Linked DNA regions of Homo sapiens. The protein of the gene in region 1 interacts with the protein of each later gene in a biochemical or structural test. Each region holds a gene or a part of one and is shown in the gene's direction. Other genes may lie near its edges.

Region 1 (8,425 bases):
AACAATGGTTTTTCTATCCCAAGCAGAACATTTTTATTCCTGAAATAGCTTAAGGACATTATTTCTTATGAAAGGAATTATCAAAAGATAAATCCAGAGGGTTACATTTTAATAAAGCTGGTTTTGCTTTTCAGTTTTTTCTTTTGGAGCAATCCTCTGAATTAACTCCAAAATAGGTGACAAATGTTTTTGAGAAGGAAAGCTACTTTATTGAAACAACATAAACCACAGTCAAGAGTGACTAGTACTACTGTAGCCAATGATGTCGAAGTCTCACCATGTCCCTGTTCTTGCCACTGGTGTCCTCTTGCAAGTATTTGCTCCTCTGCCTGAGGGCTTTTCTTTGGCCTGTGCAACAGGCTGGAGTGTCCTGGAGATACTTCCTGGAACAGATCTCAGCCAAGGGAGAAAAGGAATTGGAGGCTAAATGCCCCAGTGTGTCAGTTAGGGTCCTCCTGGGAGCAGACACTGAGATGGTATTAAATGTACAGGAAGTTTATTGGGGGAATGCGTATAAGAGAAAACGGAGGGGAGCCTGGAGGAGGCTGGGAAAGCTGTCAGACAATGAGGCAGGCAGGTCTCACCTGTGTGAAGGAAGGAGGATGAAAGTCTTAGACATTGGTGCAGTTCTAAAGTTTCAGCAGGGCCAACTGGCAGCTCTGACAGGTACAACCAGGGGTCTCCTTGCTAGTATGAGATCTGAGAGACAGAATTTCCTGATGACCAAACCCAATTTGCTGATCTCTCAGGAAAGCAGGTATGGTCCACATTGCCTATAAGAGGTCTTCAGTTGAGTAGAGCCATAGTTGCCTGCAGTGGTAACATTACCAGCACCCAGAATTGGCCAAAAAATTGAAAATGCTAATAATCATCCTTGAAATCATGAAACTCTTACAAAAGTAGTCAAATGTTACAGAGCTGCAATATAAAATAGGAAACTGTAAGTTGCTACATTGTAGTGGTTGTTAATGGTTACAAGAGCTCTTCTTATCTCTAACATGGTAATACCCATGTAATAAAGGGAGTCTTGCCATTCACTGATTATGACAAAACATTTGATCTGTTGTTTCAAGTAAATGAAAATGAGAAAAACACTAGCACTACATGTAGGAAGAAAAAAACATATCTGAATGGGAGGTGTACTTTCATAAACGTTTTGAAGACTGCCCTCCAGAAATGAAACTGTCCATGGATACTGGGTTCACAGCTGCTAAAAGCTGCCTCAGACTGCCCAAACACAGGCTGAATATTGTTATATGGGATTGGTATCGACATGCAATGTAGACTGGTCCCTGGCCTGCTTTGGGACTCTAGCCCCCAGTAATTTGTACTGCGTTCCTGTCAGTCCTAACTCCAGCAGCGGCTTAAAGGATACAATCATTCAGTACAATGAAAATCCCTAGCACATGACTTCTTAGGCTCTTGCTAAATATCTTTAGGAAAATGTATGAGAAAAGTTTTGACAAAACACTGCAGAAACCATTTTAAGCTACTTTGCAAAAACATTTTGATCATGAAAGCTTACCTTTTACTTGTAACCTTAGTGACATTGCTGTTGCTTTGGGACCGAGAGCCAACTTGAACAACTTGAATACAGCTCTAATCTTGAAGGTTGAGCCCTGTTTCTGGCTCCGGCACTTTGATTTCCACAAGAATCTTTGTGTTTCATTAAAATAAACCCCCTTCACTTGATCTCTCTTCAGTTGGTCTCTTGTTCCAAATGAAAATACTTCATTTTTATCTATCACAAGTTTCCTGTTTTCTCTAGTGGCAATTTCCTGTCTATGATACCTGCAAGTTATTTTTCAATCTGTTTTTTTTCCACAGTGATTCTGCTCTCAAGCTTACTAGTTTTTTATTCATAGGATTTCCATTTTTCTAATTTAAAATCTTATCCTTCACTGGTTACAATGAATTTCTTTAAAGAAAAAGCTAATGCTATTTGTAACCTACTGTTGCGTTGCCTTTCAAGACCACTGTTTTCTGTTCGAGCCATTTCTTTCTCAGTCATTGGTGGGGAACATGGCCAGGTACAACTAGGGTCTGCAGATCCTGCTATACTAGGACCAGGATCTGCAGAGCACTATACTAATAACTCTGCAGATCCTGATCCTGATATAAAAGTTAGCTTAGCCTGTGTAACCTGAAAAGAAGCTGTTAAAGGTTACTGAATCAGACTGTTAATATTTCCCTGATCTTCCATGTTGTCTAGCATTTTTGACAAAAAAACAAAAAACAAAAAACGAGCACTACTACTATATTGCCACTATGTGATTTTTTTTTAACCTATGAAAATAACAATTCCATGTTTCAACATAATGAATTGCATATTTCAACTAGAGTTGCCCATAGGAGAAATAACTTGCTCACAAATCAACATCTAGAATTTAGGGTGTTTGTCTTTAATTTGTTCTATTGGATGTGATATCTGAAACACCTACCTGGGGCTGTCTCTCTCCTGATGGAAAGTCACATCAGCCTTGTGTTAATTTCTTGTAGCTGGTGTTACAAATTACCATGAACTGGGTGGTTTAAAACAACAAAAATGTATTTTCTTGCAGTTCTGGAGGCCAGAACCAACAGGGCCATGCTCCTTCCAAAGGCTCTAGGCTCAAATCCTTCCTTGCCTCTTCCAACTTCTGATGGCTGCTGACATAGCTTGGCTATGGCCACATCGCTCCAATCTCTGCTGCTGTCTTCACATCACTTTTTTTTCTCTCTCTCTCTCTCCTGTGTGCGTGTTTAATTTTCCTCTGCCTCCCTGTTATAAGGACACTTATGATTGCATCTAGGGCTCTAGGGCCCACCTGGATAATTGAAAATAATCTCAAGACCCTTAATCAAATCTGTAAACCTAAATTAACATTCACAGACAAGGATCTCTTTTTGAAGTAGCGTTTTTTAGCCTCCCACAGGCTCTTCATTGCACAGTTTCAAGGGTTGAGTTGGTGTCAGCCTGTCTCTGTAGGCCCTTAGGATCTCACTAAGAAGTTTGTGTATGCCACTTAACCTATATTTTAAGTCACCCTATCCCAAAGACATTTCAAGGTCAGTGAAAATTTTTCCAACTATTGTCAAATGCTGTAACAAAAGTAGAAGTATAAATAGGAAAGAGGGACAAGAAAAAGAAGATAGAACCAATCAAGCCACTAGTCAAATTGCCTTTATGTTTTTCAAACTCTGGGCATGTGTCTTTTTCATGACTAAAATGAGATGTGGAAAAGCTGTGGCCTTCTAACAAATCTAGGAATAAGTCTTGCTACCCCCCAGTTTAATTTGAAGAAAGAAGCTGGAATTCCAACCCAGAACCCAGAAATTTTGACCTAAATCTCCTCAGTCCAAAATAAAAAGGAACCAGGAATATGCAGAACACTTGTTCGTAAAAGAGCTTAGTACCCATGCTTCCCACTATAAGAAAGGAAGCATTTCTAGTGTAGCCTTACAGACACACAGGCATGGTGGAAAGGATTTTGGGCTTTGGAGTAAGCAAGTTTGGTTTCAGTACCCAACTCCTCTTGAAACTGAATGATTTCAGTTGTCATAAAAGGTACCTCTCGGCCGGGCGCGATGGCTCACGCCTGTTATCCCAGCACTTTGGGAGGCCGAGGCGGGTGGATCACGAGGTCAGGAGATCGAGACCATCCTGGCTAACACGGTGAAACCCTGTCTCTACTAAAAATACAAAAATTAGCCGGGCGTGGTGGTGGGCACCTGTAATCCCAGCTACTCGGGAGGCTGAGGCAGGAGAACGGCGTGAACCCGGGAGGCGGAGCTTGCAGTGAGCCGAGATCGCGCCACTGCACTCTAGCCTGGGCGGACAGAGCGAGACTCCGTCTCAAAAAAAAAAAGGTACTTCTCAAGCAACACATTTGATATCAACAGTTTTTTCTGAGACAGTACTGACATAGAAATCCCCTCTAGTTCTTAGAACTAAATCCAAGAATCTTTGTGTTTCTCCTTCATGACTTGAAGTGGCTTCTTTTCTAATAAATTTAGTTCCGTGTCCTGAAACCAGGGTGGGTACAGCTTCTCTAAAATGGACGAAAAAATCAAGTCACATGACAGGGCCTGAAGAGGGAAATGATTTTTGCAACATAACCAAATTTAAATCCTGCTTTGGCTGTTGAAAACCAGAAGGAGAAGAGGTAAAGAAAAAGCAAACGCAAGTGGAGACAGTTTGAGTGCTGGGTTCTTCAGGTTTTCAATTTCTTTCTGCCCTGTTGGCTTTGACTTCATTCTCTTTCTTATTAGGTCTATTCAATGGAAGCAGAAATCTATGGGACACGCTGATATTAGCCAGGAAGCACCATTTGTTGAAAAATGAGGATGAGATAAAAGGGTTAGGTGCCTTTAGTTACTAAATTCCACGGTTGGCAAAAGCTATTCATCCGTCGGTGACAACCACAGCTGTCGTGGCCTCCCTACGGCCATGTTTTGTTGGACTCAGCCTTGAGATCCTGGTTTGTGACGTCCCACTCTCCATCGTATACACCTAAGCACTCTTCGATAGAACCCTGTGAGCTCCAGAACACACAAGAAAAGGCACCGAACAGAACTGTCCCAGAGCAGGCATTAGTTTTTCTTCTGCTACCTATCCAGACACTCAGACTAGGAACTCGGTGCCGTTTGCTGGGCTGTCGACACCATGGACAGCTCTTCAGGCGCCACCTGGTTGGCTCGGCGAGCCGACCGTCCCGAGCCCTTCCTCCTCTCCCGTCAGGCCCGTGGGGGCGGCGGGGTTGGTCCTGACGCCCAGCTTGGGGAGCAGCAATACGCAGCCCCCCAAGCTTTTCTCCGGAGTCCCTCCCCGGCGCTCACGCTCTGAAGAGCCCACGCAAAAGGACCAAGGAGGCCAGATCTTCCCTCTCCCTGCACCCCCGGCGGTGGGATCGCAGCTCTGCCTGGGGGCGGCCGCAGGAGGCAAAGGTAGCTGGAGACTGAGGCTGGGGCCGCCCGCGGGTGCCAGGCCCAGCCGGTCGGCGCAGAGTGGGCGTGGTCTCCCTCCTGATGCCCCGCCCCTTCCCTCGCGCGGGGCGGATCTTCCGCCCCCGGCCGCGGCGCAATGCGGAAGAGATGGGCCTGCTGGAGCGGAAGTGACGCTCCCGGCGGCTGTGGCGGCGGCTGCGGGAGAAGGAGGAGGAGGAGCCGGAGGAAGAGGTGAGCAAGCCGGCGGGGGGCGGGGAGCTGCTGCGGCCAGACCCACGGGCAGCCGGGCGGGCGGACGCCTCCAAGACCAGTCTCTGCCTCCGCAGCGTCAGCGGGAGCGGTGAGGGGCGACCGCGAGCAGCCGGGGTGCGGGAGGACGGGCGGGGTTGTGAGCAGACCACTGGTTGTGCGGGGTGCCGCGTCAGGCTGGGGGCTGTGGTGACAGCGGCTGTCAGCCCGCCCGCGGGAACGAACCGAATCCGCCTGGGCGCCGGGGTATCTCTTCTGGCGCATAAATGGAGGGTTTGGGCTGCTCGGCTCTTCCGTCTCTCCGAGAAGGAGCCGCTTTCCCGGGCAGTCGACTGCCCGGGACCCCCGAGGAGCCCCAGTCGGGTCGGTGCCCCGAGTCGTGACTCTTCCCGGGTGGCCATTCGTATTTATCGGCCCCGCCTGCCGTCCCCCCAGCCGGCGGTAGCCCGGGGCAGGAGAGGCGGCGGTAACCTGTGCCTTTTCCCTTGCCCTTCATCGCCACCCCCGGGAGAGCCTGTCGCGTGGGATAATCCTTTTCCTTCTCCTGCCCCCTAAGGAGCTTTGAACCAGCCTTGTCACCCTTCCCTCCCACCTCCGCTCCTTTCACCTCGAAGGAACTGCTTGAAGTTTCCAAATAGGTTCCCTTTCAACGTAGTGACAGATCTTGAAGCAGGAAGCTGATAAACAGCTCCGGACGAAATACGCTCAAAATTTTTCCTTTCAGTAAGCATAAATTAAACGGGAAACTCAACCAGACCGTTGATTGACTTACAGTGCTAAAACCTTGTCTTGCCTTGGTATGAGAATTGATAGCTTTTCCTCTTGCTTTTTGGTAAAATTAAGTGACGACTTATCTTTTGGAAAAAGCCATTTTCTCCCAGAGCTGTCTGTTTTTTCCCACCCCAACCCCCCATCAAAACCTGGCGGGGAGGGACTTTTGGATGCTTTGCAGTCCTTGCTGCAGAAGGAAACATCAGCTTCATTTGCTTTGCTTTGCTTGGTTTTCGCAGGGCTGCCTCCGAAGAAAGGAGAATGGCGTTCAGTAAAGGATTCCGGATCTATCACAAATTGGATCCCCCACCTTTCAGCCTCATAGTGGAAACTAGGCATAAGGAAGAATGTCTCATGTTCGAGTCTGGGGCTGTCGCTGTGCTCTGTAAGTCATCTGTTAGAGCCCAATTTGTCATGGTCTCTGTTTTGATTTGAAACAATTCAGATGCAACCATTTTTTAGAAAAGAGCCCGACAACCCTTTCACTGTATTTCCTCTAGCAGATTATGCTTGTATTTCCTTTTAATCAAACTTATTTTCCTGCAAACTTTTTGTTAACAGGTTTTTGTTGAGGGGGTGCAGGGAGATGCAGGTTTTGGTTGCAGGATTTTGCTTTCTTGGGTTCTGCTGCTGCTTCTAAAAGTAAATGTTTTTTCCAAAGAAATATTGTTTCAGTTTGTATCATGTATCACATAAACCCATACAGTGTCTTGCTTGACATATTTACTGGTAGGTCAGTTATAGTAGTAGGTATTATCTAATATTATCCAATATTGTTGGAGTATTTCTGTTATGGCCGTTGTGTTTTCATTAAGGGAATTGTAAACAACCTCTAGATTTTCATGTGAGATACATGATTGATTTTGTATTATTTTTAAAAGTATTTTGATAGTCTAATTTAAAGAAAAGGACTATTGTACCACAAGAAAAATAGATTAGTAATGTTTGAGTTATTTTAGGGGCAGATGGATGAAATTAAAATTAATTTGGATACTGGGTCTTTCTTAATGTAAGATATGCCAGGTGTGGGGGCTCACGCCTGTAGTCCCAGCACTTTGGGAGGCCAAGGGGGGCTGATCGCTTGAGGCGGGGAGTTTGAGACCAGTCTGGGCAGCGTGGTGAAACCCTTTCTGTACAAAAAATACAAAAAGTAGTTCGGCTCCGTCGTGTGCCCTTTAGTCCCCGCTACTTGGGAGGCTGAGGTGGGCGGATTGATTGAGTCTGGAAGGTCGAGACTGCAGTGAGCCTTGATCTCGCCACTGCGCTCCAGCTTGGGCAACACAGTGAGACCCTGTTTCAAAAATTAAAAAGAAAAAAAAGTATATGATTATATATACACATATATATGATTTAGGCAAATAATCCTAGTGTTGGGATTAGTTTAGTTACTGATTATATCTTTATAAATTAAAAATAGTGTTTGAAAGGCATACTTACAAATATAAGCCCTTAAATATCTTAAACTACTAAGCTTTCTCCAGCCTCAATAAATGAAGAGCATAAGACCTCACTCTTTGCATGTAGAATATTAATGTCAGTTAAAGTGTTAACTTGACTAAATAGTATAATTGCATCTTGATGGGGAAAAAGATAGTGACATAATGAAAAGTCTTAAGCAAAGAACAGTATATAAGAAATATATATTTGGTACATATATTTTTTGAATGAAGGAGAAGGGGCTCTAGGTCTTCCAAGAAATAAGTATAAATAATATTGGCTATACTCAATCAGTATGGACTTAATTGCTTCAAGTTGTTTTTTGTATTTAAACTATACCTTGGTACAGTATTAATTTCCATTGCATATATTTTTTACTACAAGTGGAATTCTTATACTGATGAATTCTGAATTAAAATATTGTGGGGGTTGGGTGGGGCGAATGTTTGTTTTTGTATGGGAAGCATTTTTCAGCTGCTTGTGTTTTTTGGTGACGTTACCTGACTTACTAATCTTGTATAAATTCTAAATGTTTCTTTAATTATGATTACTCATAATAGCAAGTCAAATGTTCAGCTACAAACTGTGTATTACTTATAGTTTTTAGAATTATTGCTACACTTTACTCCAAGGTTAGGAAACCTAAGAATAATAATATTTCCAAAACCTCCAGCAGCCGTCTTTTATGCCAAATAATGGTTTGTTTTTACCAAAAGGCCCTAAAACATTTATTTTGGCATTAATGTGCATTCTAAGGAGAAAGAATATTAAAATATTGTCTAAGCTATTCTATTTTCATTAGATTTAGACTATGTGAGCAATTCAGAAAAAAAATGTTGGAATATTGACTCTTTCTGTAAAGCTAACATAAATGGATGTCTAATCTCTTGGAATGTCATTATCTTTCCTACTATAAGCTTTACAGTAATACTTAACATATTAATATTTAAGAGCTAACAAACCTTCTTAAGTCATTTGACTTTTAAAATTAATTTGGCCTTCATTTTGGAGTGATACCAAGGTTTGTATTGTGCTGTACAGT
Region 2 (7,000 bases), on another chromosome or scaffold:
GAAGGACAGAAGGGACAGGAGAGGACATGAGGGGTGGGGGCATTCACTGATTTGGGGGGCCCTCCCTGGGGAACCAGGTGGAGGGGTTGGGGGACGAGTGGGTATACCAGATAAGAAGGATGCTGCTTGGTTTGGTTTTACATTTTTCTTAAAGAAAAATAGCTTTTATTATTTTTTCTTATTACCAAAGTAATATAGGTTTGCTGTGGGCAATTTAGAATGTACTAGAAAGCCGAATGAAGGAAGCCCATTAGCCACATCAGACCCACCCACCATGGGCACTTCGTAACTGATTTCCAGCCAGGGGCAGGATGGACCGGAGGGGAGGTCTGGGCTGGGGACTTGGCGGGCAGGTCAGGGTCCCAGGAAGTAGCCGTGAGGATTGGCAGGCAGGTAGAGGAGGGGTCCCGGAGCTTCACTGTGGAAAGCAGGGAAGGAAGTGGGATTGGATGAAGGGGAAGTGGACTCTGATGCAGCCCAACAGGCAACAGGGTGCCCTGGGGCTAGAGTGGCCTTTCAGGTCATGTCCATTTGCCTGTGAGAGTCAGGCCCTAGACCCCAGCATCCTGCGCCCATCAGGCACAGGGTTTGGGTGTGCCTTCCTGCAGGTGGCTCTGTGGTAGCAGCAGTCCCTGAAGCATCTGCCCACTGAGGTCGCCTGCTGACAGCACCCACCCCCTGGGGCAACAGGTAGTGTTCACCACCAGGAAAGATGGGTTGGGAGGAACCCAGAGGTGGGCTGAAGGGACAAGATCAACCGGAGCCTGGCCTCAGCTGGCTCTGGGGAGACAGGACCTCTAATGCCAGGGAAGTTGCTGGTGCCGTTTCCAGAAAAGGAGCGTGTCTGTGGGGAGCAATTTAGAATGTACTGGAAAGCCAAATGAAGAAAACCTATTAGCCACTTCAGACCCACCTGCTGGGGACACTTTGTGGCTGGTTTCCAGCCAGGGGCAGGGTGGCCTGGAGGGGAGGGCTGGGCTGGAGACTGGGGTCGGGGGCTCCCCTCCACCCTCCCCTGGGTGCTGTCTCTGAAGACCTCAACCTTGGGTGTGAGGGGCTGCAGGATACCTGAAAACTGGGAGGGCAGGGGAGGCCTTGGCTATTATTATTATTATTATTATTTTTGAGACGGAGTCTCACTCTGTTACCCAGGCTGGAGTGCAGTGGCGCGATCTTGGCTCATTGCAACCTCCACCTCCGGGTTCAAGCAATTCTCTGCCTCAGCCTCCTGAGTAGCTGGGATTACAGGCGCCCACCACCACGCCCGGCTAATTTTTGTATTTTTAGTAAAGACAGGGTTTCACTATCTTGGCCAGGCTGGTCTTGAACTCCTGACCTCGTGATCCACCCGCCTCGGCCTCCCAAAGTGCTGGGATTACAGGTGTGAGCCACCGCACCTGGCCTACCTTGGCTATTATTTTAAAATCACTCGATATTGTTATAATTATTTTCTTTTTAGAGGCAGGGTCTTGCTCTGTCACCCAGGCTGGAGTGAGTGACACCATCATAGCTCACTGCAGCCTCGACCTCCCGGGCCCAAGGGATCCTCCCATTCAGCCTCCTGAGTAGCTGAGTGCTACCATGCCTGGCTAATTTTTCAATTTTATTGTAGAGATGGGGTCTTACTGTGTTGCCCAGGCTAAAAATAACTTGATATTAAAATGCTGGGTAGGGGCTAGGGTAGTCTTTCTATATAAAATGCAGCATACTCAGGTAATTTTAAATTTCAGAAAAACAACAAATGTGTTTTTGTTGTTTTTTAGTCTAAGTATGTCCCAAACATTGCATAGGACATATTTTTAATAAAAAACTGTATTTGTCATTTATCTGAAATTCAGATTTAACTAGGTGTCCTGAATTTTTATTTTATTTTATTTATTTATTTTTGAGATGGAGTTTTGCTCTTGTCGCCCAGGCTTGAGTGCAAGGCTGCGATCTAGGCTCACTGCAACCTCCGCCTCCCAGGTTCAAGTGATTCTCCTGCCTCAGCCTCCTGAGTAGCTGAGATTACAGGTGCCGGCCACCACACCCAGCTAATTTTTCTGTATTTTTAGTAGAGATGGGGTTTCGCCATGTTGGCCAGGCTGGTCTCAAACTCCTGACCTCAAGTGATCTGCCCGCCTCAGCCTCCCAAAGTGCTGGGATTACAGGCATGAGCCACCGCGCCTGGCCCTGAATTTTTATTGACTAAATGTGGCCACTGTAGGCTGGGGTAGGGAGGAGTGGAGAGAGAGGGTGAGAATTTTCTGTTCTTGAGTGTGGGGGAAGAATCAATAGATACTTGTTTGAAGTTGACAGTTTTAAAACATTAACACATCCATTTTTAGAAACAGGTGAGATGTTCCAAATTTCCCATCTGTTAACTTTCTATACTGGCTAGAGAGTAGTCCCTTATTTGTGGATTTTGGCTCCTTAGTGCTGCTGAGAAATAATAAAACAATAGTTTTCTCATTTATGCAGGTGGGACAAAGGGAGATGTGGTGATCAAGGGTGGAATCACTAAATAGGGGTAATCCATTTGAGAAATAAAAGTCCTCCTAAGAAAGCTCTCATTTGGCGGAGGGCGTGGGAAACTAGAACTCTCACGTCAGTCGGGGAGCATACGTTAGCACTGTGTTTTTGGCAACAGTGGTCACAGTTTTGACTTGGCAATTCCACTTTTTGGGACTTATTCCACAGGTACACTCTGAGCAGGGTGCAAAGATTAGCTGGGCAGAGACAGTCAGTGTAGCAAAGCTAGATGTCTGTCAGGAGGACCAGTGACAAAGTCAAGACCTCTTTGTACGCTGTGATTTCGGGCAGTTGTTCGTTCTGGGATTTAATCAATGGATCTCTGAATGTCGCTGCCTGCCAGGCACCACTTTAGGTGCTTGGGGACACTGAGACAAGATGGGGCGGAGCTTATTACCAGTGTGGAAAGATGGTCATCACGTACTGATAAGTTAAAGCAAGTGGCTTTGTAGAACAATGTGTGTAGTCAAGGTCAGGAGTTCGAGACCAACCTGGCCAATATGGTGAAACCCCTGTCTCTACTAAAAATACAAAAATTACCTGGGTGTGGTGAAGGACGCCTGTAGTCCCAGCTACTCAGGAGGCTGAGGCAGGAGAATCGCTTGAGCCCAGGAGGCGGAGGTTGAAGTGAGCCGAGATCGGGCCACTGCACTCCAGCCTGGGAGACAGAGCCAGACTCTGTCTCAAAAAAAAAAAAAAAAAAAAAAAGAACAATGTGTGTAGTATGATACAATTTTTAAAGTACATGTACATATGTTCTTCTCTGTTCATATTTACATAACAATGTGTAGAAGGCTGCATACCTGATTGTGATTAGAGCTTGCCTCTGGGCTGAGGCCTATCGCAGGGATCTGGAGGGAGAATGCGTCCTCTTTATTTCAGCCATTCTGTGCTGTTTGCATTTTATAAACAAATATCATTACTCATGAAGAAAACAATTAAAACTGCACTTGATGATACTGGGAATTTTTTTCTTAGAAACCTAAAAAAATGAGCACGTAAACTCCATTCCCCTTAATCTGATGGCATGTGAGTCACATGCTGCCACGTGTGTTTGGAGAGTTTTTATCTGTGGTTGGTTCCTAACTGGTCCCCTCATGGGCTTATATTCCCTCTCCCTCCTCCCAGGCCTGTGGTGCCTGAAACCTGGCGGGATGGGAAAGGGGGTAAGGTAAGGTAACATCTGGGTATCAGGAGGGCTGTAGAAGGAGTATGGCAGAAGTGGGGTATCTGGCAAAGTGGTGGTTGTGTAGCACTGGGGAGTCTTGTAGGGGCACAAAGGAGGGGCCGGGGATCCCTGACATGTGCCAGGCGCTCTTTTGTTTATCCATATTTATAACTCATTTAGTCCTCTTAGTAAGCTCATGGGGTTATCCCCATTTTACAGATGGGGCAACTGAAGTTAAGTGACTTGCCTGAGGTCACACAGTAAGTGGCTGAGCCAGATTCACAGCCATGCAGTCTGGCTCCAGAAGCTGTGCTTGTGAGCCTCTCTGCCTCAGCACCTGTCGTCGAGGAATGGGGATAATCTCTTGTCTCAGAGACTGGAGGCAGGTGTGTTCTGGAAGACTGAAGGAGGGTTGTCTTCTGCAGAAGGCAGACCTGGAAGGAAAGGCTGGTCAGATCCAGAGACGGGGCGGGGGGCGGGGGGGTACATTCCAGGCAGAGTGACAGCAGGGACAAAGATGCAAAGGCTGGAATGTGAGTGGTGGTCTCAGGGGCTGGGGAGGAAATCAGCATAGGAACACGAGAGAGGACATGGGTCGTGAGGCTGGTGGGGCAGCCAGCTTGGATTGCTGCTGCAGGGCACTTTAAATGATCAGCCTCATTGGACCTTGTGGGACAGGTGGCCCAGGGCTGCTTCTCCTTGCAGGGCCTGGCAAAGACCCTGCATCCCTTAGCCCCACTCTGCCTAATCTGGGCCTTCCCTGAGGTCACACATTTCATCACTGGGTTCCCGGGGTCTAGCCTTGACCAGCCACTGAGGACAAGAGGGGCAGCCGAGGCAGGGCTGGAGGGCTGGGGGTTGGGGGTCCAGGCTGAGGTCCTGGCCCTGACACTGACTCACTGAGGGGCCTAGGGCCACTCAACCCCCTCCCTTGGATTCTGTTTCCTCTTCTGTCTTTTATTTGCAAACTTTTTATTGTGAAATATTATAAGCATTTACAGAAGTAGAGAAAATGTTATATAACAGTCATATACTCATGGCTTAGCATCAACAGATACCAACACATGTCCAATCTCATCTCAATCAAGATATTTCTCTAAAAGATAAGGACTTTTTCTAACACAATCACAATACCATTATTATACCTAAGAAGTATTAATTCCTTTATATAGTCAAATATTCACTTAGTATTCACATTCCCTGTTGTCTCAGACATGTCTTTTTGTTTTTTAAATTGTTTAAATCAAGTTCCAGGTAAAGTTCACACGTTATGATTGGTTGATATGTCTTAGTCTCTTTCAATCCACAGTTCTCCTCTCCATCTTTTCTTATTCTTTTGCAGTTTATCTATGGGAGGAAGCAGGTGGTTTGTCCTGCTGTGTTTCCTGCAGACTGGATTTTGTTGATTGCATCCCTGTGGTGTTATTTAGTATGTTCTTCTGTCCTCTCTGTAAATTGGGAGTTGCATTTGTCTGTCCCTGACACCTCATTTAGTCATCAACAAGTCCTTCAATTCTACATTCAAAACACCCAGAATCCACCCACTTCTTGTCACCTCCATTGCTGCCTTCCCTTCTGAGCCTCCACTATCCTCTCCTAGATCTTTGCAGCAGCCTCTACCTGGTCTTCCTGCCCCGTCCTTGCCTCACCAGCCAAAGGTCCTTTAAAACTTAAATCAGATCACATCCTTCCTCTGCTAAAGCTCTTCAATGACTCCCCTCCCATTCAGAATAAAGCCCAGAATCCTATAACAGGCTAGATGCAGTGGCTCACACCTGTAATCCCAGCACTTTGGGAGGCCGAGGCAGGTGGATCACCTGAGGTCAGGGGTTTCAGACCAGCCTGGCCAACATGGTGAAACCCCATCTGTACTAAAATTACAAAAATTAGCCAGGTGTGATGGCACACACCTGTAGTCCCAGCTACTCAGGAGCCTGAGGCAGGAGAATCCCTCAAACCTGGGAGGCAGAGGTTGCAGTGAGCTGAGATCATACCACTGCATCCAGCCTGGGTGACAGAGCAAGACTCTGTCTCAGAAAAAAAAAAAAAAAAAAAAAGCCCTATAATTGCCTGCAAGACCCCATGTGATCCGGCTGCCCAATACCTCAGACCTTCTCTCATACATCCTAGCCTCACTGATCCCCAGGTCATTTCTTGGACCCATCAAACACCCTGCCCCAGGGCCTTTGCACTCCTATTCCCTATGCCTGGAATTCTCTTCCCCAAAGGCCTACATGGCTCATGATGTTCACATCTCCACCCACATCACCCCCTCAGAGAGGCCTCCCAGACCACCTTATCAAAAACAGCCCTCGTTGTCCCCCATCTCCTGATTCTACTTTATCATCTTCATAGCACTTATCCCTGACATTATGCTCTTGTTGGTTTCTTGTCTGTCCCCCTTACCTGCCCAAGCATTCCATGAAGGCAGGGTTTGGGTGGGGGCAGAGCAGCATGACTGGGCTTCCCCTACCCCTCACCCCTGCCCACAGAGCTGACCGCCTCCTCCTCTCACATTGCTAGCTCCTCTACTTTCAATGTTTCCTAAAATTAAAAAAAAAATTAAAAAAACACATATTTGTGCCTAGTGTGTCATTGTTTACAAAATACTTCCTGTCTCAAGTCTGGTCTTCTAGAAGCAGAGCTGAGACAAGGATTCCCGGGCAAATGATTTATTGCAGGCATGCTCATATTAGAGCGGGAAAAGATTTGCTTACAGCTAGGATCCCACGGAGAGCTCTAGATTATGAACAGCCAGTCTCCCAGGGTTACCTTCCTCCAGACAAGGGGCCAGGCCTTTGTAGCCCCTTAGCTGGTGGTCATTGTCTGCAAGCTGCTCCCGGGGAAGGGCCTAGCCTCCCCCTGCATCTCCAGATGAGGCAGCTCCTGTAAGCCAAGGGCAGCTCTCAGGGGAAGGGGGCAGCTGTGAGCTGCTAGCAGCCAGCACCCACAGCTGCTGAGAGATGGGTACCCCACCTGATAGAAGGACACTGGCAGTACCCCCTCTACTTCCATATCCATTTCTGCTTTGAGCCTTGCCACAAGCCTGTGGGGATGGTATTTATTAATGATAATTATTCCCATTTCCTAGAGGAGGAAGCTGAGGTTCTTAGGGCTGAAATGACTTGCTTGAGGTTGCACAGCCAGGAAGGGGTTAGATTTAAGCTCAAATTCTTACTCAGGATCCTCTGATTAGCGGACAAATCGTCTTAGTGGCTGCTGGTTTGTAGTTTTACTCTCAAGCATTCATCCTTTTGAATGTTAAATGAATATGTATTGCGTGTGGTGTGCTGTGTGCTGAACTAGGCACCAGGCCATTCA
Region 3 (7,000 bases), on another chromosome or scaffold:
AGATGCCATTGCTGTGTGTCCCATGGTGGCGACTGGGCTCATTGCTGCCTTGTGGTGTATTTTAGCTTGTTCCTCTATCTGGTGAATTTTCCTGCGGAAAATTCTGCAGAAAAATCTGCGGAACCATTTTTTGCTGGAACGCTTGACAGCTCTTGCATACACTTGAAAACACGTCACATTCTAGGAAACGTGGTGATTGGTGCTCCTGTGAGCTGCTGGCTGGCATCTGTCAGTGGTGGAGAGCTCTGGGGGGTGAGGGGGCACCTGGTTGAGCCTTGTCTCCTTTGGCCTCCCAGCCTCTAGGCCAGGAGGATGGCACCGAGTGTGCCTGCAGTGGCCTCTTGCTGAATGGACACTTGGGTGGGTGGCTTGTGCATTTTTGTCAGGGGCTGCTCAGCACTCACACCAGTCCTTGGGAAGGCCTGGGTTTGGGGGCACCTCTGGGGAAGGTTCCTGGAGCTTCCTTTGCTCTGTGAGAAACCTAAGGAGCCTCAGAGCTGCAGATGAGGAAACTGAGGCTCACATGGTGCCACCTCTTGCCCGAGAGGGTCAGAGCAGGAGGAGAGCCCAGGTCTGGGGATAGATCTTGTGTCTCCAGAGGTGCCTTGTCTCACCATCTCTGCTGGGCTGGGAAGAGGTTGAGGGAGCAGAGACCCTGGCCCTGAGCTGCAGAATTCTCGAGTGTCAGAGGCACCCCGAGCTCCTCCTTTGGAAGACAGGAGCTGGGGCATGGCCACCACCCCAGCAGGTGTGCCAGGTGGGCAGGACACTCAGCCGGGGGCGTCCCCTTCGTTTCCCCAGAGGATGCGGCTGTGAAGGGGCGGCTGGTGGAATGTCTGGAGACTGTGCTCAACAAGGCCCAGGAGCCCCCCAAATCCAAGAAGGTGCAGCATTCCAACGCCAAGAACGCCATCCTCTTCGAGACCATCAGCCTCATCATCCACTATGACAGGTGCCCGCCTGGGCCTATCAGGGCCTGATGCCTGGGGCCAGGAAAGAGGGGCATGGAGGCCCGGACTCCTGAGTCCTAGGCAGAGGGCAGGGAATCTTGACTTTTAGGTAGGGTAGGAGGAGGATGGGGCTGTGAAGTGTCACCTGTGAGGTTGGTGCTGGGGCCCTTCCTGGGGGCAGAATTGCTAGGTATCTTTCTCTGGGCTCAAAGGCCCAGTTGTCTGGGTCACTGGAGGTGCAGTACTGCGATGCAAGGCCGGCAAGGTTAAGACCTGGATCCTTGGGGGCTGTGAGATGGGTCAGCTGGGGCCCGAGTCCTCCACCTTCTCCTGTCAGTTTCTCTCACCATCCCTCTCTTGTGGCCCCTGCTGGCAGTGAGCCCAACCTCCTGGTTCGGGCCTGCAACCAGCTGGGCCAGTTCCTGCAGCACCGGGAGACCAACCTGCGCTACCTGGCCCTGGAGAGCATGTGCACGCTGGCCAGCTCCGAGTTCTCCCATGAAGCCGTCAAGACGCACATTGACACCGTCATCAATGCCCTCAAGGTGTGAGCCCTTGGAGCCCACCCCGGGCCTGCCACCCCCCTCAGAAAGACCAGAGGCTCAGAGGCCCTTGGGTGGCCAACCCTGTGCCAACAGGGAGTCTAAAACACACCTGGGCTCTGCTCTCCGCCCTCAGACGGAGCGGGACGTCAGCGTGCGGCAGCGGGCGGCTGACCTCCTCTACGCCATGTGTGACCGGAGCAATGCCAAGCAGATCGTGTCGGAGATGCTGCGGTACCTGGAGACGGCAGACTACGCCATCCGCGAGGAGATCGTGAGTGCTGTGGGGTGCGGGCTGGACTCTTGGGTCTGAGGCAGGAGGTGGCTGGGGGCCTGGATTCCTAAGTCTAAGGGAGGAGGGGCTGGGGCCTGGACTCCTGGGTCTCCAGATGGGGGCAGTGGTGAGCCCAGATCCAGGTGAGTGAAAGCCCGACATGGCCTGCGGCACACTCTCTCTCACACGCCCCGGCGGCAGGTCCTGAAGGTGGCCATCCTGGCCGAGAAGTACGCCGTGGACTACAGCTGGTACGTGGACACCATCCTCAACCTCATCCGCATTGCGGGCGACTACGTGAGTGAGGAGGTGTGGTACCGTGTGCTACAGATCGTCACCAACCGTGATGACGTCCAGGGCTATGCCGCCAAGACCGTCTTTGAGGTCAGCATCCCTGACCCTGACCCTATGACCCCACGACAGGACCTAGAGGCAGAGCAAGGATGGCCGGGGCCGTGGCGCCTGCCAGCCCGCAGCCACCCTCCTTCTCCTGCACTGCCGTGACCTCAAAATGGGGCCTCTGCCTCTCTGGGCCAACCCAGGGGACCCAGGGCTATGGTCTCATGGGCCTGATGTGAGGAGTCCCCAGGGCATGGGCATGGGGCACCCAGTGTGCAGTCCTGGCCCCCGGATCTCGGTAGTTTCCCTCTGCCCCAGGAAAGGGGCCCCACACAGTCCTGTTTTTTGTTTGTTTGTTTGTTTGTTTCTGGAGACGGAGTCTCACTCTGTTGCCCAGGCTGGAGTGGGGAGTGAGTGCCGTGGTGCGATCTCGGCTCACTGCAACCTCGGCCTCCCAGCGTCAAGCCATTCTCCTGCCTCAGCCTCCCCAGTAGCTGGTACTACAGGCACGCGCCACCACACCCAGCTAATTTGTTTGTATTTTTAGTAGAGACGGGGTTTCACCATGTTACCCAGGCTGGTTTGAAACTCCTGAGCTCAGGCAATCTGCCCGCCTCGGCCTCCCAAAGTACCAGGATTACAGGCATGAGCCACTGCTTCCGGCCCACAGCCCTGTTTTACTTCCTGTGTGAGCTTGGGCCCGTCACTCAACCTTTCTGTGACTCAGTTTCCCACCTATAACCCCACCTGCAGCAGAGCTTTCAGTGTTCCACCAGTCAGTAGGTGGCTGCACCCACCGATCCCGGAGAGGGCGCTCATTGTTGTCCTCTCCACGCCCTTCCCCACCCCACTCAGGCGCTCCAGGCCCCTGCCTGTCACGAGAACATGGTGAAGGTTGGCGGCTACATCCTTGGGGAGTTTGGGAACCTGATTGCTGGGGACCCCCGCTCCAGGTGAGGGAGCCTCAGCCTGCAGGGGAGAACACACATGCTTCTGAGGGGTCCAGGGCTTGGGGGATCCCCAGGGGTCTCAGGGCAGGCAGTGATGGGCTCCCATCCTCTCGGCCTCCACCCCAATCCACCTAGCAGGGTAAGAAAGGAGCTTAGTCCCAGGATCGTGGACAGAGTGTGACTGCGGCCCCTGTCTGGTGCCTGGGGAGGGCCACTCCCCTCCAGCAGCTTGGGGTCCTGGGACGGGTCCATCCTAGGGAGGGGCACCTCTCGAGGGGGTTTCTGGGAGAGGGCAGTGGAACCTGGCCCCGCTGACACCCACTCCTGCACACAGCCCCCCAGTGCAGTTCTCCCTGCTCCACTCCAAGTTCCATCTGTGCAGCGTGGCCACGCGGGCGCTGCTGCTGTCCACCTACATCAAGTTCATCAACCTCTTCCCCGAGACCAAGGCCACCATCCAGGGCGTCCTGCGGGCCGGCTCCCAGCTGCGCAATGCTGACGTGGAGCTGCAGCAGCGAGCCGTGGAGTACCTCACCCTCAGCTCAGTGGCCAGCACCGACGTCCTGGTCAGAGCCCTGTCCCCCCACCCCACCCCTCTTGCACACCCCCTTCCCGCCCTCCCCTCCTCCTGACCCGAACTGACCTTCCCCACCCCGACCGCGCCAGGCCACGGTGCTGGAGGAGATGCCGCCCTTCCCCGAGCGCGAGTCGTCCATCCTGGCCAAGCTGAAACGCAAGAAGGGGCCAGGGGCCGGCAGCGCCCTGGACGATGGCCGGAGGGACCCCAGCAGCAACGACATCAACGGGGGCATGGAGCCCACCCCCAGCACTGTGGTGAGTCCCCTGGGGTGGGCCCTGCCAGGGTGCCTGGGGCTGGGTCCTGCCGGGCGCCGCCTGTCCTCACCGTGACCTGCGCTTCCTACAGTCGACGCCCTCGCCCTCCGCCGACCTCCTGGGGCTGCGGGCAGCCCCTCCCCCGGCAGCACCCCCGGCTTCTGCAGGAGCAGGGAACCTTCTGGTGGACGTCTTCGATGGCCCGGCCGCCCAGCCCAGCCTGGGGCCCACCCCCGAGGAGGCCTTCCTCAGGTAGCACCCCCTGGGCCCGGGCCCCTTCTCGCGGCCACCCCCAGGGCTGTCCCTTCTCGGCCTCTGTCCCCGTTTTCCCTGAGCCCCTCCCCCGCCCCCGACTCGCTCCTCTCTCCATCCTGATGCCTTCGCCAGCCCTGGCTGCTGCCTCCCCTGCCCCAGCCTCCCTGCTCACGCCCTCCCTCTGCCACTCTGGACTCCGCCGACCCTGGCCACCCTTCGTTGTCTCCTTTCCTGTCACCGTTTCTCAGCCTGCTCTTCCTTTTCTCCTTCTCTCCTTCCCTCTTCCGTCCCTCCCTCTCTGTCTCTCTTCTGCCCTCTCGCTGCCTATGTGGAATTGGCTGCCTGCCACGCCTGTCTTCTCTTGTCTGCTCTGGGATTGGATGGCTCAGCGAGCTGGAGCCGCCTGCCCCCGAGAGCCCCATGGCTTTGCTGGCTGACCCAGCTCCAGCTGCTGAGTAAGGGGTGGCCTGGGGTGGGAGGTCGGTCGGGGGGGCGGACTCGGGTGTCCCCAGGGAGAGTTAGGGGACTGGGAGCCCTCGTCAACGGGTTCCTGATGAGCAGCAGAGGCAGGGACTTGGAGGAAAGGGAAACTTGGTGTCTGCCGATGCGGGGGCACGGGCCAGGGTTCTATTCCCATTGGAGGCCACTGCTGGATGGATGCGAGGTTCCTCGAGGCTCTGTGAGGGGTCTGGATATGTGGTTCTGGGGTTCTGTCCTTAGGGCTTGTTCTCGCACTCAATCGCTCTGGGCCTTTGCCCCTCCCCACCAAGTTCCTTCCCATCTCACTCTGCTCCATGCCTCCAGCCCAGGTCCTGAGGACATCGGCCCTCCCATTCCGGAAGCCGATGAGTTGCTGAATAAGTGAGTCCTGGGAGTGGTGGGGGAGGGGAACGGGACAGGTGCGGAGCCCAGGCCAGGTGCAGACAGGCACCCCCGTCATCTTGCGCCCCCTGCCCCCTCAGGTTTGTGTGTAAGAACAACGGGGTCCTGTTCGAGAACCAGCTGCTGCAGATCGGAGTCAAGTCAGAGTTCCGACAGAACCTGGGTGTGTCCCGGGGGACTGTGGGAATGGGTCGGAGGGAGACCTTGGGGAAGGGGTCAGAGGGACTCAGATGGAGCTCTGCCTCCCCCACCTACTGCAGGCCGCATGTATCTCTTCTATGGCAACAAGACCTCGGTGCAGTTCCAGAATTTCTCACCCACTGTGGTTCACCCGGGAGACCTCCAGACTCATATCCTCTCAGGCCCGGCCCAGCCTCCTGCCTCTCCACGTCGGCCTTCCTCACCGTGGGGAAGCCGGCTGACCCAGGTCCACACTTCTCTTCAGCCTCTCTTGGGCACGCAATTAGTTCTCTGAGATTGAGTGTCTGCATCTGTTAAGATGGGGGTGGGATTCCTTCCCCCAGGACAGGGGATGACAGTGAAGTGGTGTGTGGGAGGCTTTACTTCCAGAACTCCACCTGCTCCAGGCCTCATTTTGTCCCTGTCTGGCACCTTCCGTGTCCTGCCATCGTCCTCCACTGGGCTCCATGTCATGATGCCAGCACCGCCTGCACTCAGGAGCCAGGCCTGCGGGTCCAGACGCTGATCAGGCCTGATCTGGGCTGAGTCACTTTGCCTCTCTGGGCTCTCCTGTCCCCGCTGTGAAGTGTATGTAGACCCTCCTCTTCCTCATAGGGTTATTGTGAAGATCAGAGTGTCTGGAAAACCCTGGAAGGGCGGCTGGAGGTATCAGTCCCCCCTGCCCGTTCTCTGGGCCTCCATTGCCACATTCATGAAATTAGAAAAGCTCGACCTGAAAACTCCTTCTGGCCGGGCATGGGGGCTCACACCTGTAATCCCAGCACTGGCAGGCTGAGGCCAGTGGATCATTTGAGGTCAGGAGTTCAAGACCAGCCTGGCCAACATGGTGAAACCCCATCTCCACTAAAAATACAAAAATCAGCTGGGTGGTAGTGGCACGCGACTGTAATCCCAGCTACTCAGGAGGCTGAGACAGGAGAATCGCTTGAGCCTGGGAGGTGGTGGTTGTGGTGAGCCGAGATTGTACCACTACACTCCAGTCTGGGCGACAGTCTCAAAAAAAAGAAAAAGAAAAGAAAAAATTCCTTCTTCGGTCGGGCACGGTGGCTCACGCCTGTAATCCTAGCACTTTGAGTGGCCAAGGTGGTTGGATCACGAGGTCAGGAGATCGAGACCATTCTGGCTAACATGGTGAAACCCCTTCTCTACTAAAAATACAAAAAATTAGCCGGGCGTGGTGGTGGGCGCCTGTAGTCCCAGCTACTCGGGAGGCTGAGGCAGGAGAGTGGCGTGAACCCAGGAGGCGAAGTTGCAGTAAGCCGAGATTGCGCCGCTGCACTCCAGCCTGGGCGACAGCGAGACTCCGTCTCAGGAAAAAAAAAAAAAAAAATTCCTTCTTTCATAATTTCCAGAGGCTCGTGCAGGCAGCTCAGTGGAGGCAGTGACAAAAGAACATGAGACCCAGGCCTTCCCAGTGGGCTACTGACACGGATGCAGATGATGATAACACTAATTGCTACCATCTTTGTGTACTTACCATGTGCCGGGCACACAGACAAGTACTTGTGATGGATTCTTTTCTTTTCTTTTTTTAAATAGAGTTGAGGCCTCGCTATGTTGCCCAGGCTGGTCTCAAACTCCTGGGCTCAGTGATCCTCCCCACCTTGGCCTCCCAAAGTGCTGGATTACAGGCGTGAGCCGCCACACCCGGCTGGATTATTTCATCAACTCCTGAGGACATTTTACACATGTCCTTGTGTTGAGACAGGGCCTCACTCACCCAAGCTGGAATGCAGTGGCATGAACACTGCTCACTGCAGCCTCGAACTTCTG

The links.
Region 2: the proteins of SYNJ1 (region 1) and PACSIN1 form a complex in vitro, tested with the Homo sapiens proteins (one study listed by BioGRID).
Region 3: the proteins of SYNJ1 (region 1) and AP2A1 form a complex in vitro, tested with the Homo sapiens proteins (one study listed by BioGRID).

What each region holds. Positions count from the first base shown.
Region 1 is NC_000021.9:32,724,678-32,733,102, reverse strand, and holds the start of SYNJ1 (synaptojanin-1), read left to right. Parts: upstream 1-5,157; intron 5,158-5,163; exon of another isoform or gene 5,164-5,266; intron 5,267-6,185; coding exon of another isoform or gene 6,186-6,207; coding exon 6,208-6,331; intron 6,332-8,425. UniProt on the Homo sapiens protein: Phosphatase that acts on various phosphoinositides, including phosphatidylinositol 4-phosphate, phosphatidylinositol (4,5)-bisphosphate and phosphatidylinositol (3,4,5)-trisphosphate. Has a role in clathrin-mediated endocytosis.
Region 2 is NC_000006.12:34,469,076-34,476,075, forward strand, and holds part of PACSIN1 (protein kinase C and casein kinase substrate in neurons protein 1), read left to right. Parts: intron 1-7,000. UniProt on the Homo sapiens protein: Plays a role in the reorganization of the microtubule cytoskeleton via its interaction with MAPT; this decreases microtubule stability and inhibits MAPT-induced microtubule polymerization.
Region 3 is NC_000019.10:49,798,001-49,805,000, forward strand, and holds part of AP2A1 (AP-2 complex subunit alpha-1), read left to right. Parts: intron 1-801; coding exon 802-952; intron 953-1,326; coding exon 1,327-1,495; intron 1,496-1,604; exon of another isoform or gene 1,605-1,628; coding exon 1,629-1,766; exon of another isoform or gene 1,767-1,967; coding exon 1,968-2,150; intron 2,151-2,960; coding exon 2,961-3,058; intron 3,059-3,389; coding exon 3,390-3,621; intron 3,622-3,721; coding exon 3,722-3,889; intron 3,890-3,980; coding exon 3,981-4,141; intron 4,142-4,533; coding exon of another isoform or gene 4,534-4,599; intron 4,600-4,948; coding exon 4,949-5,005; intron 5,006-5,106; coding exon 5,107-5,189; intron 5,190-5,286; coding exon 5,287-5,376; intron 5,377-7,000.